Linked DNA regions of Homo sapiens: region 2 is linked to region 1. The links come from fine-mapping of genetic effects on gene expression. A gene starts in region 1. The other region holds a variant in brackets. All regions are shown on one strand. Distances are between the middles of the regions. Region 1 holds the start of ANKDD1A (ankyrin repeat and death domain containing 1A). Region 2 has its middle 33 kb from the start of ANKDD1A.

Evidence for each region. PIP is the estimated chance that this variant, and not a neighbour inherited with it, causes the effect. A credible set is the group of variants that fine-mapping cannot tell apart.
Region 2: its variant is the best candidate, but not a certain one, in a credible set for the expression of ANKDD1A in regulatory T cells (Bossini-Castillo 2019, PIP 0.67).

The regions. Positions count from the first base shown.
Region 1 is chr15:64,909,384-64,914,757 of GRCh38, reverse strand. ANKDD1A (ankyrin repeat and death domain containing 1A) reads right to left here and starts at 2,856. Exons shown (of 15, transcript NM_182703.6): 1 at 2,794-2,856. The coding sequence starts at 2,827. RefSeq lists an enhancer at 2,101-2,644 and silencers at 2,831-3,010, 3,211-3,260, 3,334-3,628.
Region 2 is chr15:64,875,824-64,881,197 of GRCh38, reverse strand. No RefSeq gene overlaps it. Among named protein-coding and RNA genes, the nearest start is that of ANKDD1A, 33 kb to the left of the region's middle. The variant A/G (reference allele first, on the strand shown) is at 2,960.

The DNA of each region.
Region 1 (5,374 bases):
CTGCCATCATCCTGACGGCTCTTGATTGTGAGGATGTCTAGTCTCCATGGCTAGACTTCAAGTATTTTGGAGGCCCTGGCCACACTTGACCCTTCCTGATCCACCCACAGCTCACAGCAGGCCCAAAGGTGGGCACAGGAGGAACCCACAAAACTCTGCTTTTGAGCCAGGCATGGTGGCTCATGCGTGCAATCCCAGCACTTTGGGAGGCCAAGGCAGGAGGATGGCTTGAAGCCAGGAGTTCAAGACCAGCCTGGGCTAAAAAGCAAAACCTCCATCTCTACAAAAAAGTTTTTTTAAAAATTAGCCAGGTGTGGTGGCACATGCCTGTAGTCCCGGCTACTCAAGAAGCTAAGGCAAGAGGCTTGCTTGAGCCCAGGAGTTTGAGGCTGCCAATGAGCTATAATTGCACCTCTGCACTCCAGCCTGGGCAACAGAGTGAGACCCTGTCTCTAAAAAGAAAACAAAAACAGGCTGGGTGCAGTGGCTCACACCTGTAATCCCAGCTCTTTGGGAGGCCGAGGTGGATGGATCACGAGGTCAGGAGATCAAGACCATCCTCGCCAACATGGTGAAACCCCGTCTCTACTAAAGATACAAAAATTAATTGGGCATGGTGGCACACACCTGTAGTCCCAGCTACTCGGAAGGCTGAGGCAGGAGAATTGCTTCAACCTGGGAGCTGGAGGTTGCAGTGAGCCGAGATCATGCCAGTGCACTCCAGCCTAGTGACAGAGCGAGACTCCATCTCAAAAAAAAAAAAAGAAAACAGAAACAAAAAAATCTCTGCTTGTATGAGTGACACCAACAATCCCCAGACGAATAGATGCCTGTCCCCTCTCCCAAAGTGCTCACACATACTAGCACAGAGACAAATATTTGCTGGCCCTTTCCATAGTCACTGCAGGGCAAGTGACCCCATAGCCTGCATGTTTGGTCCAGTATGAATGTCTGAACCCAGCCCCTTTGTGTATCCAGGGACAGGTGACGAGTGTCTTGGTAGGGAAGGCTAAGATGCACTGAGGTGAGAGACAGGCCTGCCATGCAGTTTGTTTTTCTAGATAAATTCCACACAGTCTTCTCCAGATGAGAAAGAGGATCTTGAGCTTTCTGGGGCCTCATGGATACAACCTGTGGATCTCAGAGTTGCTACCCTGGGGGGCAATCACACAGTCCTGGGTTCAACTCTGGCTTAACCACTTCCTAGCTGTGTTAGGCAGTTTCCTCATCTGCAAAACAGGAGTGCGAGCTTCCCTACAAGGTTAATATCATGATTAGAAATGAGATATGAAAACCCCCTGGCACAGTGTCTGGCACATAATGACCACACCGCCACCACCACCACCATCATCATCACTATTATTCCTCCAAGGCAAAGGGTCAAATTCTGGTAGCCAAAGAGAGCTGCCACTTCAGATGTGAGCTTACAGAGGCCTGGGTTCTAGTACCTTCCCTGCCACTTTCCAGCAGCAGGATCCTGGGCTAGTCACATCCCCCTTGTAGGTCTGTTTCTTCCATTGTAAAACTGGGGGAGGGTGAAGAAAGAGATCTGTATAGGTCCCTTCCTGTCTGGCACCCTCTATCTTATGTGCAGCTTAGGGGGATTGGCCTGGTTTGTATTGGCAAACAGCCAGGAGTTCCAATGGGAAGCCAGCAGACACTGCATAGGGTCAGGCCAGAGAAGGTTAAGTTAGAATGAAATCAAGTCCAGTCTCATCTCTTCCATCCACCTCCCATCCGGCACCCTCTTTCTGGCCACATCCAATACCCACTGAGCTACCTGAGCCTTTGCCCATGCTGGGTCTTTGTCCAGAATTCTCTGCCACACACCCCAATGCTCCATTGGTACACATTCTTCGCAGGCCCACTCAAGTGATCCTCCGCCCCAGGCAGAACCATGTACCTAATCTTGATTGAGCATTCCCACCCCCAACACATCCCTCAGCTGAGTAGATGCAGTGTGCCAGCATTTTGGACACTATAGGTCTCAAAGGAATCCAGTGAGCTGCACTATGCGCTTTTGAGGGAAAGCCCCGGGATTCAGCTGTCAGGATTCAGCCAGGGCTGCAGGATCAAGGACTCACAGTGCAGACACCGACACAATCTTTCTCTCCCCTCTCCCAGACGGTGCAGCCAAAGCTGCCCCAGGCCAGCTGATGCCCACACAGACGCTGCTGCCCGGCCTAGAGGCCCTGGCACTGGGCGCACTCCTTGAGGGAGGTTCGGAGGTGCCCTCATTCCACCTGTGGCCAGTCAGGCTCCTCTCCTCTGAGTGCGTGCCCCATCTGATGCGGTCTCCACTCGCTATCCAGCCCCAGCATTCCGGGTGAGCTGGGCCCTTCAGCACTTCTACCACTCAATGGCTGTGTGACCTTGAACAACTCATTTGAACACCCTGTGCCTCAGTTTCTCATCTGCGAAATGAAGATAACATAATGTCCTACCCATATGGCCGCAGCGAAGATCAAATGACGTGCCTCTCCTGGGTCAAGGCCTGGCACACAAAGTACAGCACGCAGTCAAGGATCGCTATTACCTTTATTATTTGTAGCTAACCTCTCAGCCGCTGCTCCCCGCTCACCTGGCGGGTGTGGTCCCCGAGTCCCAGACGCACTGGCAAGGTCCCCTCGGCCCAGTGCGCGGACCGGTAACCATTCCGCTCGGAGCCACACAGACGCCCCACACGGAGGTGGCCGTTCGGAGGGCGCCAACCTCACCCCTGGCACTCCCCAAACGGATGCGGGGGTCCTCTCGGCCTCGGCCCGCCCCCCTCCCTCCTCCAGGCAGACTCACGGCCGTCGGTCTCCCACGCCAGCTCCTCCTGCATCCTGCCGCTCCGCAGCCCCTGCGCGCGCTGGTGCCCGGGCGCGAGGCGCGCGTCCGCCGGGGCGGGGCCCGGGGAGCCGAGAGGACGGGGCGGTCGCTCCTCCAGACTCCACGCCCCGCCTGCTAGGAGCGCAGCTGCCCCGGCCACCCCAGTCCCGGACCAGGACGCAGGTCCCTCCTCCTGCTCTCTTAACCTGCCCACCCCTCCGCGCCCGAGGCCGGCGGGTCGGGGCCACGCCGAGTTCCGCAGGTGTCCCTGACCCAGTCTCCTCCCCGGGAGTTCGCCCAGCCTCCCCGGCCCTGGAGATAGATGCGCACAAGGCATCTGGCAGGCTCATCCTCCTCGCGCCTCTCGGGACTCGGGGAGGAGGGCTGAGCCTTGGGCCCGCCGCCTCAGGCGCAGAAAGTCAAACCCCAAAGATGTGAGCTGGCGTTTAAGGGACCACAACCTCAGCAGGTCTGCAAGCATATGAAGAGATGGTCGGATTTATCAGTGTTCAGAAAGATTTATCAGGCCCATAAAGGGACATGTAGGAGGATGTTGGTTGCTGTGTTGCTGTGGTTGCTGGGAGTTGGAGACAATCTAAGCGCCCTTTCTTGTAAGAGCAGATGGATAAACTGTGCAGCACTCAAAGCAAGGGACCCGCTGTATTCGTGGCAATATGGATTTAAACACCTAGTGCTAGGCAGAAAAAGTAAATAACCAAACCAAATAAGACCTAGGAAACAATATCAATAAAAATATTACAAATGCATTTACATCAAACAACACAGACTTGCAAAGACACATAGAAACAAAAAGATACACATTAAATACACCAGAATGGGTTGCACTTCAGACCCTTGGGGGATGTCCATGTCCTTTTTGCCTTAAAGGCATTTACAGCTTCTTTGAATTTAGGGATAATGGGGTCTCAGGCATCTCTATCCCAAGGCAAGAAGCCAGCAAAGCCATGATAGGTGTAGTTACTACTACTTTGGGGATCAAAGGAGGAAGAGCATCTTTCAGTCATTAGTCCTTAGAATATAGTTCAAGAAGGCTTCCTGAAGAAGGAGGTATTTGGAATGGCCTTTGAAAAATAACATAATGATAACAGCTAACAATTAATGAGCCCTGAGCCAACCCCTCAAAATGGTCTCAAAATAACAATTCCAACATAATAATCAAAGATATGATTTTTTTTTTTCTGAGACAGAGTCTCACTCTTTCGCCCAGGCTGGAGTACAGTGGTATGATCTCGGCTCACTGCAACCTCTGCCTCCTGGGTTCAAGCAGTTCTCCTGCCTCAGCCTCCCATGTAGCTAGGATTACAGGCACTCGCCCCCACACCTGGATAATTTTGTATTTTTAGTAGAGATGGGGTTTCACTATGTTGGTCAGGCTGGTGTTGAACTCCTGACCTCAGGTGATCCACCTACCTTGGCCTCCCAAAGTGTTGGGATTACAGGTGTGAGCCACTGCGCCGCACCCCCCCCTTTTTGTTTTTGTTTTTTTTTTAAGACAGAGTCTCACTGTGTTGCCCAAGCTGGAGTGCAGTAGCGTAATCTCAGCTCACTGCAACCTCTGCCTCCCAGGTTCAAGCGATTCTCATGCCTAAACCTCCCAAGTAGCTGGGACTACAGGTGTGTGCCACCACACGCGGCTGATTTTTGTATTTTTAGTAGAGACGGGGGTTTCACCATGTTGGCCAGGCTGGCCTCGAACTCCTGACCTCAGGTGATCTACCCACCTAGGTCTCCCAAAGTGCTTGGCCACCACGCCTAGCCAAAGATATTATTCCTGAAAACAGTTTAAATGTTTTTTGTAAAGCTTTTGTCACATGTACATCCCACTAGGGGCATAGTGTCACGTTACTGTTTTAGTCACTTGGAATAGTTCTTTATGTGGTTATGCCACCAACTCAACATGCATGGTTTATTTATTTTGTTTTGCTTTTGTTTTTTGATATTTTTAAATGTTAATTTTGCTTTACAATTATGTAAAGTATTTACATGTTTCAAAGTTAAGTCTCTGAAGGTTGTCATAGTCAGCTGTGGTGATGGATGAAGAGGGCACCACTGGCTTCCAGCCTGCTGTCACTCTCCTTCACTCCACATCCAGCTTTTCTTCCCAGCTGCTGAGCCTGCTGACCAACAGTGGCCCCAGGCCATCGCGGACTTGGCTGCAGACCCAGGGCATTAGTACCACCCATAGACCTCCCCAGGAGCTTTCCCTTGTGGTTCCATTTTAGCAGCTGGACATACTTGGTTTCTCAGATGACTGACTAAGGACTCCTCTGATCCCCAACTCCCCTTCTGGTCCTTCCGCAACTGTGTAAGGCAAATTACTATCACAGATCCCTAATCCCAGGGGTCTCCAACCCCCAGGCTTCAGACTAGTACTGGTCTATGGCCTGTTAGGAACTGGGCCACACAGCAGGAGGTGAGCAGCAGGAGAGCGAGCATTACCACCTGAGCTCCGCATCCTGAAAGATCAGTGGTGGCATTAGATTCTCATAGAAGGGTGAACCCTATTGTGAACTGTGCATGTGAGGAATCTAGGTTGCAC
Region 2 (5,374 bases), 34 kb after region 1:
AGTGATCCTCCCTCAGCCTCCCGAGTAGCTGGAACCACAAGCACGTGCCATCACGCCCAGCTAATTTTTGTATTTCTTGTAGAGATGACGTTTTGCTGTGTTACCCAGGCTGGTCTTGAATTCCTGGCTTCAAATGATCCTCCCACTTTGGCCTCCCAAAGTTCTGGGATTACAGGTATAGGCCACTGTGCCTGGCCTAAAGGTTTTAACTTTAACTTTTTGAGTTATTGATCCATCTAGAGTTGATTTTTTGTGGATAGTGTGAGGTAAAGATTTCTTTTTTCTTTTTCGAACGGGTAACCAAATTTCTAACTCTATTTATTGAATAGTCTAGGGCCACTTTTTAAAAATTTTCTGGAGCCAATCTTAACTGGGTCTTGAGGGGACAGGAGGAGGGTCTAGCTGAAATTTGACTGACACAGAATTCCCTATTAGACTGACCAAGGACTACCTGGGTCACATTCAATGAGTCTAGAGACAAAAGTAGTTCCCACCTGCCTCCGAGCTCAGCACTATTTTTATTTATTTATTTGTTTATTTATTTATTTTTTGAGACGGAGTCTCGCTCTGTTGCCCAGGCTGGAGTGCAGTGGCACGATCTCGGCTCACTGCAAGCTCCGCCTCCCAGGTTCACGCCATTCTCCTGCCTCAGCCTCCCAAGTAGCTGGGACTACAGGTACCCATCACCACGCCCGGCTAATTTTTTGTATTTTTAGTAGAGATGGGGTTTCACCATGTTAGCCAGGATGGTCTTGATCTTCTGACCTCATGATCTGCCTGCCTCGGCCTCCCAAAGTGCTGGGATTACAGGCGTGAGCCACCGCGCCCGGCCTATTTATTTGTTTATTTGAGACGGAGTTTCGCTCTTGTTGCCTAGGCTGGAGTGCAATGGCGCGATCTTGGCTCACTATAACCTCTGCCTCCCGGGTTCAAGTGATTCTCCTGCCTCAGCCTCCCAAGTAGCTGGATTACAGGCATGAGCCACCGCGCCTGGCCTGACTATTTTATTAATAGATGTAACTTATGTGTATGGCAAATAATAATAATTCAGATAGTACTGAAAAGTATCCAATTGTTGGTTGGGCGAAGTCACTCACACCTGTAATCTCTGCACTTTGGGAGGCCAAGGTGGGTAGATCGCTTGAGCTCAAGAGTTTAAGACCAGCCTGGGCAACTTTTATAGAGACTCCATCTCTACAAAAAATACAATAAATTAGATGAATGTGGTGGCATTTGCCTATTGTCCCAGCTACTCAGGAGGCTAAGGTGGGAGGATCGATTGAGCCTGGGAAGTGGAGGCTGCAGTGAGCAGTGATGGTGCACTGCACTCCAGCCTGGGCAACAGATACCTTTTCTCAAAGAAAAAAGAAAAGAAGAAAGAAAAGTATCCAATTAAAAATTAAATTATCCTACCTCCAGAACCACTACCCAGAAGTAACTATGTTAATAGTGAATGATTTTTATATCCATGTAGTGTAGGAAACTAAAAAAAAAAAAAAAAAAAAAAAAAAAGTGAATAATTTTTCACTGCTGTGAATCCTCTCCCTGACTGTAAATAACACACTCATGCTCTATTTTTTTATTTAGCATTTCTAGAGTAACTCTAGTTATTCTCTGCTGGAAAAGTTTGTTTCCTTTCATCTACCCCATCTCTCCTCCCTCCTCACCTTATTCCCAATACTCGGTCTTTTAAAAAATAATGTTAGGCCAGGCACAGTGGCTCACGCCTATAATCCCAGCACTTTGGGAGGCCGAGGGTGGGTGGATCACCTGAGGTCAGGTGGATTACAGACGTGAGCCACCGCGCCTGGCCTGACTATTTTATTAATAGATTTAACTTATGTGTATGGCAAATAATAATAATTCAAATAGTACTGAAAAGTATCCAATTGTTGGTTGGGCGAAGTTACTCACACCTGTAATCTCTGCACTTTGGGAGGCCAAGGTGTGTAGATCGCTGGTTCAAGACCAGCCTGGTCAACATGGCGAAACCCAGTCTCTACTAAAAACACAAAAATTAGCCGGGCGTGGTGACACGCACCTGTAATCCCAGCTACTTGGGAGCCTGAGGCAGGAGACTCGCTTGAACCCGGGAGGCGGAGGTTGCAGTGAGCCGAGACTGCGCCACTGCACTCCAGCCTGGGCAACAGAGTGAGACTCTGTCTCAAAAATAATGATAATAATAATGTTAAATGTTCTGCCAAATCCTGAAGCTGCTGCCACAGCTGTATTTCAGGAAGCCCAGCCTGTGAGGATGCCGTCCCCCCTCCGCAGGAAGACGTCAGACAGGACACTTTCCATCACCCTGCTTCCTGATTCCAGGCATCGATGCTGAGCTGGACAGAAGGAAAACAGCCTTTTGGTGTCTGAGACAACAGCACAAATGACAGGACTGGCCTTCTTTCCTGAATGGGAAGAGGGTGGGGAGAAGAATGCTGCAGTGACCCGAGCTTGTTGATGCCCTGCCACAGGCACCCCAGGTGGCCTTGGGCAAGTCCCTTCTCTTGCCTCTCCACCTGTAAAGTGTAGGTTACTGGGGTCCCTTCACCTTAGACTTTCTTTGGTCAGAGCTACAGAAAGAGGTGGCTGTAGGGAGGACTTTCTGAAAAAGAGTAAAAAGGCTCTCCTTGCTCAGGAGGCTGAGGTAGGAGAATCGCTTGAACCTGGGAGGCCGAGGTTGCAGTGAGCCAAGATCGCAACGTTGTGCTCCAGCCTGGGCAACAAGAGCAAAACTCCATCTCAAAAAAAAAAAAAAGAAAGAAAGAAAGAAAGGAAAAGGCTCTTCTGAGAGACAGAGTGATGATACAATGATAGTAACAGCCACTGCTTCCTGAGGGCCTCCCGTGGGTACTGGGTGGGCATCGTCCAGGTGCCACGCATGCGTGATCCTATTTAATCTCCAAGCTCTCAGGTGGGCACAATTCTCCTCGTTTAACTGATGAGGTAACTGAAGAGCAGA[A/G]GTTAGGCGACTTGTCAAAGCTCACAGAGCTGAAAGGTCTGTGCCACATATCTGGTCCCATCTGCCACCTAGTCTTGTTGAATATCTTGTATATTTCAAAATGCTGAAAAACTCCGGGGTCCCTCTGGCCCTCCAGAAACAAATTGGAAGATACTTCCTGAGTTCATGGAACCCTGCCTCCCAGATCCACTGTAGAGACTGACCTTGGCCCAAGCCTGAGGGGTGATTTTGAGACAAATTCCTCTCAAGGGGAACCTTTTCACAGAGAAAAGAAGAGGGCTGTTTAGTCTGAGGAGACTTTTGCTCACCCATAGCAGGCACCCCAAATGTTCAGAATGACTTGGGATCTATTCTTCTCCCCTGGCCTTCCCCAGAGACAGAGCTGTTTGCACTCTCCTCATCCCACTGACCAGCACACTCTCACCCACACCACACCCTGGGCACTCTGGGGACCCACAGGCCTCAGCCTCAGCATGGCCTGGCGCTGGCCACAGCTGGGGCAGGGCTGCTTCCCTTCAGACCCAAGGCCACAGGCTGGAAGGAAATGGAGGTGGGAGGGGCCCAGAAAAGCTGACTAGGCTGGAAGGCTGGTTGGGAGGGAGGAAGCACAGAAAGGCCAGCCCAGCAATTTGGGCAAAGCTGGCAAGGCTGCCTTGGCATCTCTGCGGATTCAAGGCCACAAGGGCCTCACCTTGGCCACCCAGCCCCGGCTTGTGGCCAGGAGGCTGAGGAGAAGTCCTGATTGGGTCACACTCTGAGGGACTGAATCAGAACTTGGCCCTGGCTACCAAGACTATTGGACTCTTTCCCCTACCTGCAGCTCAGGGGTGTGGCTAGTGGGCAAAGAAATGCATATATATATGTTTGTTTGTTTTGAGACAGAGTCTCGCTTTGTTGCCCAGGCTGGAATGCGTTGGCATGATCATAGCCCACTGTAACCTGGGACTTATGGGCTCAAGGGATCCTCTCACTTCAGTGTCCTGAGAAGCTAGAACTACAGGTGCATGCCACTGCACCTGGCTAATTATTTTGTAATATTTTGTAGTGACAGGGTCTTGCTACATTGCCCAGGCTGGTCTCAAACTCCTGGCCTCAGGTGCTCCTCCTGCCTCGGCCTCCTGAAGTGCTGGGATTACAGGCATGAGCCACGGAGCTCAGCCCGCCTCTATCTTAAGCCTCTTCCTTGAGGCTCCAACCTGGGTCTCTGCTTCAGAATTCAACATCAAGAAATGAATAAAACAAGGGCCCAGCCTGAGCAAAATAGTGAGACCCTATTCCTACAAAAAATAAAAATAGTTTTTAAAACAGAAATGAATAAAACAAAAAGACACAAACAAAACAAAGCCTCTTTGAGGACAAGAGCCCCACTAAGCTGGGACAAATCTGATAAAACCCCAGAGCCTAGGTCTGGGCTGCTGCTGAACTCTCCTGACATTATGGTCTGCCAGGGACAGGTGTCTTTGCACATCTACGGTGACTAGTCCACTCACTCTACACCCCGTCCTGGTTGTGGCAAAGAGACTATACGTTGTCCACCTAGGTCAGGGTTTCTCAACCTCAGCACTACTGATATTTTGGATGAGGAGCCCCCAAGATGTTGTCGGGGAGGCTGTCTTGTGCATTGTAGGGTGTTCAACAGCATCTCTGGCCTCCACCCACTAAATGCCAGTAGCAATGTCCCCATTTGTGACAAAAATATCTCCAGACATTGACAAATGTCCTCTGAAGGCAACATCATCCCCATTTGAAAAACACTGCTCTAGCTCCATTCCCTCCCTTCTTTTTTAGTAATAAGACTTTTGATTTTCAGCTGGCACACAGTCAACAGGAAAAAAAACACCAGGCAGCTAGCTGCAAGACCACCCTCGCAATGAGGCAGCAGTACAACTTCCAGAAAGTGTCTCTAAAGGGAAAGTGTGCATCCTATACCCCTTCTTGCTTCCCAAGGGTGAGAACACTTATGCGGGGGCTGCAGCTGTATCACCTCATGGGTCCAGAAATCAAAGTCAAGGGGTAAGATGGCAGAGCAGTAAGAGGGAAGGAGGCTGGGTCCCAGATGACCATGGAGTGCCATGATAGAGATGGCCTCTACCACCAGACTTAATTCATGCAAGATAAATGAATTTGTGTCACTGCTGTCTTGGCCTAACTCCCCCGGAGCTGAGGTTTAGCCTCTGATGAACTCTTCTGACACCATGGCCTCTTGTCAGTCACAGTCAAATCTAATCTTAAGTAACATACAAGATATAACTCAGCAGTGCTTGTGGCTTTAATTATCCACTGTCTGGATGCCCGTTGACTGTCAATTTTTTGCCTCAGCTCAATTCTAGTAGTTCACCAGACCCCTCCACATGGCCACCATCCTCTCCCCATCCCGCCCTCCCCAGGGGCTTCCTATCTCAAAAAGGTACTCCC